3 linked regions of the Homo sapiens genome follow. The protein of the gene in region 2 purifies or fractionates together with the protein of the main gene of each other region. This does not show direct contact. Each region holds a gene or a part of one and is shown on either strand. Other genes may lie near its edges. The genes, in order: SRBD1, USP45 and TMOD3.

Evidence for each region.
Region 1: the proteins of USP45 (region 2) and SRBD1 purify together in Homo sapiens (affinity purification with mass spectrometry; one large-scale study listed by BioGRID and IntAct). This does not show direct contact.
Region 3: the proteins of USP45 (region 2) and TMOD3 purify together in Homo sapiens (affinity purification with mass spectrometry; one large-scale study listed by BioGRID and IntAct). This does not show direct contact.

The regions. Positions count from the first base shown.
Region 1 is NC_000002.12:45,601,241-45,604,894, reverse strand, and holds part of SRBD1 (S1 RNA-binding domain-containing protein 1), read left to right. Parts: intron 1-2,811; coding exon 2,812-2,992; intron 2,993-3,654.
Region 2 is NC_000006.12:99,505,342-99,508,995, reverse strand, and holds part of USP45 (ubiquitin carboxyl-terminal hydrolase 45), read left to right. Parts: intron 1-213; coding exon 214-386; intron 387-1,464; coding exon 1,465-1,568; intron 1,569-3,654. UniProt on the Homo sapiens protein: Catalyzes the deubiquitination of SPDL1. Plays a role in the repair of UV-induced DNA damage via deubiquitination of ERCC1, promoting its recruitment to DNA damage sites. May be involved in the maintenance of photoreceptor function.
Region 3 is NC_000015.10:51,899,005-51,902,658, forward strand, and holds part of TMOD3 (tropomodulin-3), read left to right. Parts: intron 1-1,150; coding exon 1,151-1,294; intron 1,295-2,887; coding exon 2,888-3,032; intron 3,033-3,654. UniProt on the Homo sapiens protein: Blocks the elongation and depolymerization of the actin filaments at the pointed end. The Tmod/TM complex contributes to the formation of the short actin protofilament, which in turn defines the geometry of the membrane skeleton.

The sequences.
Region 1 (3,654 bases), on a different chromosome or scaffold from region 2:
GTTGAGAATCTCTGCTTTAGAGTCATATTAGGTGCTCTGAAGATATTTGTTAAGTAAATGACTGGTAATATTTATAGTAATAAGTACTATAAAGAAAAATAAAACAGGGCAGGGGATAGAGAGCATAGTGAGTGGTTGCAGTCGGGGGGCATTTTGGATAGAGTAGTCAGAAAGTTATTGCGGAAGATGTGGCAAGAGATCTAGATGAGATTTGGGGGTGCAGCTTGCAAAGATCTTGGGGATGGGTGTTCCAAATAGAGAAAGCAGCAAGTGCAAAGACCCTGAGGCAGGAATAAGTTTGGTGTGTTCAGGGAACAGCAAGAAGACCAGTGTGGCCAGTCTAGAGACATGAGGCAGAGAGTAGTAAGAAATGAGATTGTAATGAGTAGGATCTGGATCTAATAGGCTTAGATCCTTCTCCTTAGTCCCTTTAACTTCTCTTCTCACCACCCTCTAAATGTTGGAATCCCTCAAGGCTTAATTCTAAGCCCTCCCCTTCCTCCACCCCCCTTCCCCTCTCCCCTCCCTGTTAGTAGCTGATCTTGTCTTATGGCTCAATATAAAAATCTCAATTTTATACAGTATCTCCAACTTGATCTTCCCTGGTATTAGAATTTTATTTGAAGTGGGTTGGGAGGCCACTGGAAGGTTTTGGGTTGGGATGTTACATGACCTGGGTTTATATTTGTAAAATATTCTGGTTTCTTGGTGGAGAATAGACTATAGCGGGCAAAACTGGAAGTAGGGGAAATGAGTTAAGGAGATTATTGTAGAAGCATAGGATTCTAGATGTGAAAGTGATGAGAAATGGTCTAATTTGGGATATATTTTGAAGGTAGAGTGGACAGGACATGGTGGTGGATTGGATTTGGGGTATGAAAGAATGACAGACATTTTGGAAAGACTGGAAGAGGAACAGGTGTGAGAGTGGTGGAATCGGGAATTCAGTTTTGGACTTGGTAAGTTTGATGTGATTGCTGGACATTCAGGTGAAAGTGGATATACAAGTCTTGAGCTCAAGCGGGGAAGGTCGAGTTGGAGATACTATATAAAATTGAGATTCCCAGCTGGGTGTGGTGGCTCACACCTGTAATCCCAGTGCTTTGGGAGGCCACGTCGGGCTGATCACTTGAGGCCAGGAGTCCGGAGTCTAGCCTGGCCATCATAGTGAAACCCGGCTCTACTAAAAATACAAAAATTAGCCAGGCATGGTGGCACGTGCCTATAATCCCAGCTACCTGGGGGACTGAGACGTGAGAATCACTTGAACCCAGGAGGTGGAGGTTGCAGTGAACCGAGATCACGTCACTGCACTCCAGCCTGTGTGACAGAGGGAGACTCTGTCTCTAAATAAATAAATAAAAATAAAATATAGATTCCTGTATCGAGAAAATACAAGATTACCTGGCAAGAGAGCATAGAGGGCTGAGGACTAAGCCTCGAGGGATTCCAGCATTTAGAGGTTAGGGAGAAGAGGAGTCAAAGGGGCTAAAGAGAAGCTGCCAGGAAGTAGTATGAAAACCAAGGGCTGGGGTTCCTGTATGTAAGGGATATGCTCTAAGGGGTGAGTGCCAGATGCTCCTGAGAGCTCAAGTGATTGGGAAGGAGAGTTGACTAGCTGCCTTAGAACTATATCATGTATAACACAACGGTATCTGTGCTTGTGTTTTGTTCATAATAACTAAAGGGCCTTTAATCTTGGTGATATTCCTTTGTGAAATAGGGTTAGTCAGTAATCCTGGTTGATAGGTGATGAGACTAAGGAGGGAAGAAGTCATCCTGCTCAGTTTGATGATAGTATGAGGAGTGGAACCCTAGTTTTCTATTTCATTGGTTTTCTAATTATAGTTTCTTTCAGTTCCACTGCTGTTATGTTATTCTGATTATTCCTGTTTTTTGTTTGATTGTTTGTTTTTCCTTACCAGGCTTAGTGGTACCTCTGAAGAGAACACCAGTAGTTTGACCTATCATAATTATTCTCTTCTAGAGCATAATTTAGCTAAGAAGTCATCCAGTCAGGTTTTTGCCCCCAGCAAGAACTTAACATTAAAAAACCCAGACTTCCCTATTCACTCATCTCAGTAAAGGAAGTCTCACTAATATTGACCTTTTACATTAGAGTAGAAATGGAATTAACTGGGTTGGCAGGAGCATGATGGTCCTTTAAAAGAGTTCCCATGGCTGCTTTTTCTCTGCTCTTGCTGTGAGTTTGATTCTTCGTTGTTAGAAAAGTACTATAGTCGCACCTGATCCAATCTAATCAGGAAAGAAATCCATTCTGTGAAAGGAAAAAAGGGTTAATTAAAGCAGTTGGAAGGGTCTTGGTGCTGGCTTTTAATGTAATTTAGTGTGTTTCCTAGAGCCATTTCTCAATCCTTTCATTGATTTGAATAACTTAATACAATTTAAATGAATTTGATTAGTAGTTGGGAACTTATTTAAGTGCTTTTCACTGTTAAAATTGAAAAGCTCACATTGACTATAGTTTGACATGACCCAGTAAATTACTTAAGGTAATAAATGATTTTCTATGTCTTGAATGAATGTGTGTATGTGTTTGTCAGTTAGGTGAGAAGAGAATGGAGAGACAGAGCTGTGATTTACAGCATACTGCGGTATTTTTATACTGGTCCGTCATCAACTCTGTTGGTTCAATTCTTAGCAATAACTGTTCACAGCCTGTACTCAATCACTCCATTTTATATTAAACACCTCCTACTTTATCATTTTTTCAAGAATCTTGCATCTCTTTTTTACCTTTGACATTTGCTTTTATTTTTCCTGGAGATTATTCTGTTGATTTACTTCTAGATCATCTGCCTCTGAAGAAGATGACAAGGAAGATAGTGCCTGGGAGCCCCAAAAGAAAGTTCCCAGAAGCCGTAAACAGCCCCCTCCCAAGGAATCCAAACCAAAGAGGATGCCTCGGGTGAAGAAGAATGCCCCACAGATCAGTGATGGCTCAGAAGTCGTTGTTGTTAAGGAGGAGCTGGTAGGTGCTACAGCTGGATAGAGGGAACTCTGTAGTGTCTTCCTGATTGGTGATGTTATTTTCTTATTCTACAGAGTAGGACAAGGCATGTAAATGACAAAAACTGCCAGCAATGGCATCCCCTACCCTGGGTCTTAATTTTTGGGTCTGTACTGTGTTTCTTTGTCTATTCCCTTTTCCCTCTCCTAGGAGTTGGTCTGGGTGTGGTAGTGCTGGTAATGATGGTGGCATTAGCAAATAGTTGAGTGCTTACCATTAGCCAGGCAATGTGCTCAACATTTCATTTAAATGATCTTAATCTTTATAACAACCATTGAGGCAAGTGCTTTTATGCTGATTTTATAGATGAGAAAGCTGAAGAAAGATGTTAAGTGACTTGCTCACGGTGTACAGATAGTAAGTGATGGAACTGGGTTTCTAAGTTAGGAACATGATTTTGTCAACATTTTGGGAACAGATATATCTCTCTTGGGTGTTTTTACATCAGTTGTGTTCACAAGAGAGATAAATACAACCAGAGTGCTGGTTTAATATTTAATAGTTTAAAATAATAATCTTAAGGACTTGAAATTCTTATGGCCAGCATTTCGTTCTCCTTGGAGCCTAATCTGAATAGGGAATTAAGTAGTAATCAGAAATTTACTTGATGAGCATGGACTCAG
Region 2 (3,654 bases):
CTACAACCATGAATCTCTTCTCATTCTATAATTATGTTATTTCATGAACATTATATAAATGGAATTATATAGCATATATCTTTTGAGTTATTTTGTGTGTTCAATCTCTGTGCTTTTTAGTTAACAGCATTTAATACTTTTGAGGTTTGCTCAGTAATGGTAGCACTTTGGTGTAGCAAAGAAAATGTTGAGATTTTGTTTTATCTTATTCAGTAGGTTTAACTTGCCAACATGTAAGTCATGCTATCAGCGTGAATCATGTAAAGAGAGCAATAGCTGAGAATCTGTGGTCAGTTTGCTCAGAATGTTTAAAAGAAAGAAGATTCTATGATGGGCAGCTAGTACTTACTTCTGATATTTGGTTGTGCCTCAAGTGTGGCTTCCAGGTAAGAAAAGTATTATTTATATGTGAGTTTGTCTGAAATGTTTTCCTTAAATGCTTATTGTGAGTTGGACTGTTGGTCATGCATAGGAGTTAAGATAAATTTATTCCAATTTAGATAGAAATTTTCCAGGAATGAACTTAAAAATGATTGTTAAGGTAAAGTAAAAGGTATGCTATGTTCAGAAAGTAATCAGGTGTGGTTTATAAATACTTGCAGAGGTAATTCAACCTATTTGCAGTAGTTCCCATATCTGGACCAGTCTTTACCTTTTGTATTTACTTAGGAAATGGATCTACCTTTCAGATTAATTTTTTTCTCTCTCAAAACAGATTATTCTGCTGCTTTTGCAAAGTAATTTAAAATCTTAAAGTTTAAAAGTTATTGATATCTGTAATAAAGGAATTTTTTTAATGAAATTAAAAGTATATACTTTTTTAAAAAAATAAGAGAAATCTTTATTATTTCACACAAAATGTCCAGAAGTAAGGCCACTTCAGGATTAGTTAATTTAATGGAAAGAACATTAAAAACTGAGGTTTATTCTGTTTTCTGCTGTGCCATCCTCAACCTCATGGTTGTGTTCCTCTTAAAAAACAAACAAAAAAAAAGCCTTCTGGAAAGATTCAGCGGATTTGACTTCCCCTCATGTTGCATTAACCAGAATTGCATCTCATTTCTTTACTTACCTAGTGAGGGAAATCGCTATGATTGGTCTGTGTCTCAGTAGTTCTCAGTAGGCTGGGGTGAAGTTGTGTACGGGATTGGGAAATGTGTGTTTGCAGAAGGGCACCACTGGCCTGCCAGGATGCTGGGTGTTCCACAGTGTGCACATTTTTAAATGATAGGGAAATTAACTTTGCCCATGATTGTTTTAGGTAAATACTGTATATTGAGCATGTTAGCCTGTTGGCAAGAAATTAAATTTAATGAGAATCCATATTACTTTTTTGAAACTTTCTCCTCTGGCCTGAAATTAAAAACAAAACTTTTCAGTATAAGTGTGAGTATAATTTAAGTTTTGATTAATTTGAAACAAACATTTGTAAGTCATACAAAATAAAATTCTGTTCATCTTCAGGGATGTGGTAAAAACTCAGAAAGCCAACATTCATTGAAGCACTTTAAGAGTTCCAGAACAGAGCCCCATTGTATTATAATTAATCTGAGCACATGGATTATATGGTAAGTTAAATTTTGTTAGTTCTTGTGTCCACTAACCACAGCCCCCCAATTTTTTTTTTTCTTTAAGCTTTTAAGGTAAAATATTTAAAGATGTTCTATCAGCTTATGGTTTTTTAACCTGAACACAATCTATGGGATACTTCAAGAAAATTAATATTACCTGTGAATATAAAATTTAAATTGGAAAAATTTTAACTATCTCTCTACTTTTTGTTGTTGTTGAGACAGAGTCTCACTCTGTCGCCAAGGCTGGAGTGCAGTGGCGTGATCTCAGCTCCCTGCAATCTCTGCCTCGTGGGTTGAAGCAATTCTCCTGCCTCAGCCTCCTGAGTAGCTGGGACCACAGGCGCATGCCGCCATGCCTGCCTAATTTTATGTATTTTAGTAGAGACAGGGTTTCACCATGTTGCCCAGGCTGGTCTTTGAACTCCTGAGCTCAGGCAATATGCCCTCCTTGGCCTCCCCAAGTGCTAGGATTACAGGCGTGAGCCACTGCGCCCAGCCTTTCTACTTTTCTCTATCATTTTCCTTGTATAATGTAAAGAAAAATTCTTTTTAGTTGATTTTTTTGGTAGTGAACTTGCTAATACAGAATTCTAGTGTTGTAGAGAAGGAAGATACTTCAAGCAGTCAGGTCATTTTCTGAAGGGAGAGGGAAGAGCTGGGCATAAGTAGCTTGTAAAAACTTTTCAGGTCATTCTGCTGTTTAATCCTGGTTGAGAATCTAGTCCAGTTTCCTATGTTACCTGTAAGGAAACTATGTAATATTTACCTTTTTGTGGTTATGAAGTAAAAATCCAGGTACTAAAACAAGTTTTTTGTGGGGCGTGATGGCTCACACCTGTAATTCCAGCACTTAGGGAGGCTGAGGTGGGCGGATCACTTGAGGTCAGCAGTTTGAGACCAGCCTGGCCAATATGGTGAAACCCCGTCTCTACGAAAGATACAAAAATTAGCTGGGCATGGTGGCGCACGCCTGTAGTCCCAGCTGCTCAGGAGGTTGAGGCAGGAGAATCGCTTGAACCTGGGAGATGGAGGTTGCCACTGCACTCCAGCCTGGGTGATAGAGTGACACTCCGTTTCAAAAAAACCAAAAACAAGTTTTTTTATTTTCTAGTTTCTTATTAGCATATCACACTGTTTTGGTAGTATAAATGGACACTATGTTGAAATGCTTCCTCTGTGTTTTACAATAATTTTCCAACTTGAATCTATGGACTCCTAAGGGTTCCTTGAATGAATTTTCAGGAGTCTCAGATTTTCTTTAACATAAAAATATTTTGTCTAAAATTAATATAAGGGTATTTTGGCTCACAGAAGAGGTCATCATCTTTAATACAGCCAGAAGGGTTGGGCACCAGCTGCATTTGTGTTTTTATTTGTTGTTGTGAGTCCCAAGTAGTAGTACTGGGGAGAATGACGAAAGAACAGAGGGAACTTAATATATAAATGATGCATTGGAACCAATGGAGACAGCAATGGTGCCATAGTGTGGCAGTTCAATAAGGATTTCACTTTAGTGGTCTCAAACTCTAGGTGCATCAGAATCTCAGGGAGATCTTGTTATGACAGATTGCAGGATCCCAGTCTTAGAAATTCTAATTTAGTAGTTCTGGGGTGGAGGAGCCAGAGAATTTGCATTTAACAAGCTCCCAAGTGTTGCCAGTGCTGCTGGTCTGTAGACCACAGTTTAAGAATTACTGAATTAGAAAAAGGTGGGTAAGAAGATTGTGAACATGTAATGTAGCATTGGTGTAATGCATTATGTTTTTTTTTTTTTTTTTTTTGAGATGGAATCTCACTCTGTCACCCAGGCTGGAGTGCAGTGGCGTGATCTCGGCTCACTGCAACCTCTGCCTCCTGGGCTGGGAGTAGCTGGAATTACAGGTGCCCGCCACCACGCCCTGCTAATTTTTGTATTTTTAGTAGAGTTGGTATTTCACCATATTGGCCAGGCCAGTCTCGAACTCCCAACCTCAAGTGATCCTCCCGCCTTGGCCTCCCAAACTGCTGGGATTACAGTTGTGAGCCACTACACCCGGCCATAATGCATTACATTTATAAAACACTTTGAACACTTTCCAAC
Region 3 (3,654 bases), on a different chromosome or scaffold from region 2:
GACATACCATTACTTGAGGAATTTAATATTTTATTAGCCCCTTCTTCTCAATGGCCTTTGTGCTCTTCTGGTTCTGGTTATCTGTGTTCTTTTCTGGCCTTCTGCCTTGACCATTTCTTTTGGCCCCTGCCTTGGAAATTAGTACATAATTTACCCTCATTTTGGCTTCACATGATCCAGCTACAGCAAGACCCAAATAAGAAAAGATGTTACAGCGACATTGATGAAGTTGGTCTAACACAGAAACTGAAAGAGTGAGAGAGACAGAAGAAAGAAGCATGAAGTAGGGAATGAGGAGTAGAGAATGTCACCAACGGGGAATTACATGTGACCAAAAAATCAAAAGATTATGACTGGGTACATATGAAAAATAGGTACAGGCCAGGTGTAGTGGCTCACACCTGTAATCCCAGCACTTGGGGAAGCCGAGGTGGGTGGATTGCTTGAGCCCAGGAGTTTGAGACCAGCCTGGGCAACATGGTGAAACCCCATCTCTACAAAAAATACAAAAATTAGCCGGGCATGGTGGCACACAACTGTAGTCTCAGCTACTCAGGAAGCTGAGGTGGGAAGATCAATTGAGCCCAGGAGGCAGAGGTTGCAGTGAGCTGTGATCCTGCCACTGCACTCCAGCCTGGGTGACAGGGCAAGACCCTGTCTCAAAAAAAAAAAAAAGAAAGAAAAGTAGATACAGTCATCCATGGGTTCAACCAACTTCAGATCAAAAATATTTGGAAAAAAATTCTATGAATTTCCAAAAGCAAAATCTGAATTTGCTGTATGCCAGGTACTATGTTGAATCCACAAAAATGAAGTGATGTGTAGGCATTGTATTAGGTATATTAAGTAACCTAGAGGTAATGAAAAGTATACAGGAGCATGTGTGAAGGTTATATGCAAATACTATGCCATTTTCTATAAGGCACTTGAGCATCTGAAGATTTTGGTATCTGCAGATGGTCCTGGAACCAACCCCCAACAAATACTGAGGGACAACTGTACATGTGAGAGCTATGGGCTACTGTGTCAAACTGAAACAACTAATGACAAACATTAAGGCAGTTAATTAATGTATTTATTTATGGCATGTACAATATGTAGTAGGTACTGTATCAAATTTTAATCTCTTAATATTTTCTCTAATTTCTAGGCTTTTGCAGAAATGCTGAAAGTGAACAAAACTTTGAAGAGCTTAAATGTGGAGTCCAACTTTATCACGGGAGTTGGGATTCTGGCACTGATTGATGCGTTAAGAGATAATGAAACCCTGGCAGAGCTCAAGATTGACAATCAGGTCAATGTTCTACAATAATAACGTCGAGGAAGCTACAGCCCACGCTGCTGTGTAGGGCTTGGCGACTCAGGATGGGGATGGGAGGCGGGCTGTCAGGGATCCCTGTTGGAAGATGCTGGGCTGAAAGGAGAGCTGACATTTGGGGTATCTAGAATATTAACTCAGTGTATATAACAGTGTATACAATGTAAAGGTGTATACTCTCCCTAGATCATTTTAAGAGAATTTAGATGGCTATCTAGTTTGAACTGAGAGGACTCTTACATGTGACCTAGTCCACCTTCCAATTTTTCAGCTCTGTGCTGGCAAGGTCCACATTGTAGGGTTTTTGTAAAAGGCAGAGAGATACATGTTAGAAATGTTTCCATCCAGAGTAGCTATTAATTTTTTTATTTGAAAAAATAACTCCATTTATTTGAAAAAATATTTGTTAAATGTCTCCTTCAGTCCTTCAAAGTAAATACATTTTGTAAACTATGAAGGTGGAAAAGAGGATTATGTCTTAAAATTTAACCCAGTGCTTCATAATCCATGTTTTTCATTTTTTTATTGAGATATAATTACATACAGTAAAATTCATTTTCTTAAAGTATACAGCTAAATGGTTTTTAGTATATTTGTAGAGTTTTGCAGCCATTACCACTAATTCCAGAACATTTTCATTACCCCAAAAAGAAACCCCATACCCATTAGCAGTCACTCCCCATTCACCCCTCTCACCAGGCTCTGGCAATCACTCATCCACTTTCTGTTTCTTAGGATTTGCCTATTCTGGACAGCTTATATCTGTGGAATCAAACAATATTTGATCTTTTTGTGCCTGGCTTCTTTCACCTGGCATAATGTTCTGGAGGTTCATCTGTATTGTAGCATACATCAGGACCTCATTCTTTTATGACTGAATAATATTCTATTCCATTTGGGGTGTGTCCACATACGGGCCACTAGAAATAATGCTGCTGTGAACATTCATTACAAACTCTAACATGGACATAGATTTTCATTTCTCTTCAGTATATAGCTAGGAGTGTATTGCTGGGTCACATGGTAACTCTATGTTTAACTTTTTGAGCAGCAGCCAGTTTTCCACAGTAGCTGTACCATTTTACATTCCTCTCAGCAATGTCCCCATTTTTCCACATTCTTGCCAACACTTGTTATTATCTATCTTTTTTATTATACTTATCCTAGTGGGTATGAAGTGATATGTCATTATAGTAATTCACACTTTTTTGATGTCTATATGATCATATTACTGAACTTTAAAAAGTTTAGTGTGTGTGTGTGTGTGTGTGTGTGTGTGTGTGTGTGTGTATAAAGTTCCAGTGAGGCTGTGGTGATGATTGGGTCAATGGGTAAAATCCCCTTCCTGTGACAAACATTTCATAGCTTTAAGTGACCAGTTTTCTACAACAAACAATTTGTTCTCAGTTACAAATCAGTACTTGGAACTACTGAACTATGTATATGTTGTAGGAATTGGGAACATTTAAAGAGATCAAAGAATTAGCATGTGCCTGAATGTCTTAATTTACCTTGAAAAGTATTTTGATCTAGTTTATTAATATTGTTCTTTTTTTCTAATTACTCCAGAGGCAGCAGTTGGGGACAGCTGTAGAATTGGAAATGGCCAAGATGCTTGAGGAAAATACAAATATCCTTAAATTTGGATATCAGTTTACACAGCAGGGACCACGAACCAGAGCAGCTAATGCTATAACAAAAAACAATGACTTAGGTAAGACATAGTATCGATCAAGTTTCTGAGTTCTATCACAAGCTAACGTATTGGGGGAACTTCTTTCCCTCTTAAGAATAAATTCTAACAGAGAAGTTATTTGGCCTTTGTTTCTAAAATCTGCATGGTCCTTTATATACTGATTGAATTCAAGTTCAATTAAAGTGAGGTTGTGATGATTGGGTCAATGGGTAAAATCAGCTTCCTGTGACAAGCGTATTTCATAGTTTTAAGTGACCAGTTTTCTACAACAAACAATTTGTTCTCAGTTACAGATCAGTCCTTGGAACTATTGAAACAAAGATTTCAACATTATCGGAAAGTTTTTTGCCCTTTTAATCAAGCGGACCCAGATAGAAATTCAATTTTATATGATAGAATGTGGATATAGAAATATATAAAATAGAGAATAATTATATTTCTCACCCAGGTTTTTTGTTGTTGATTTTTTTTGAGACGGAGCCTCGCTGTGTTGCGAGGCAGGAGTGCAGTGGCGCCATCTCGGCACACTGCAACCTCCGCCTCCCAGGTTCAAGTGATTCTCCTCCCTCAGCCTCCCGAGTAGCTGGGACTACAGGCGTGCGCGCCGTGCCCAGCTAATTTTTGTATTTTTTTTTTTTTT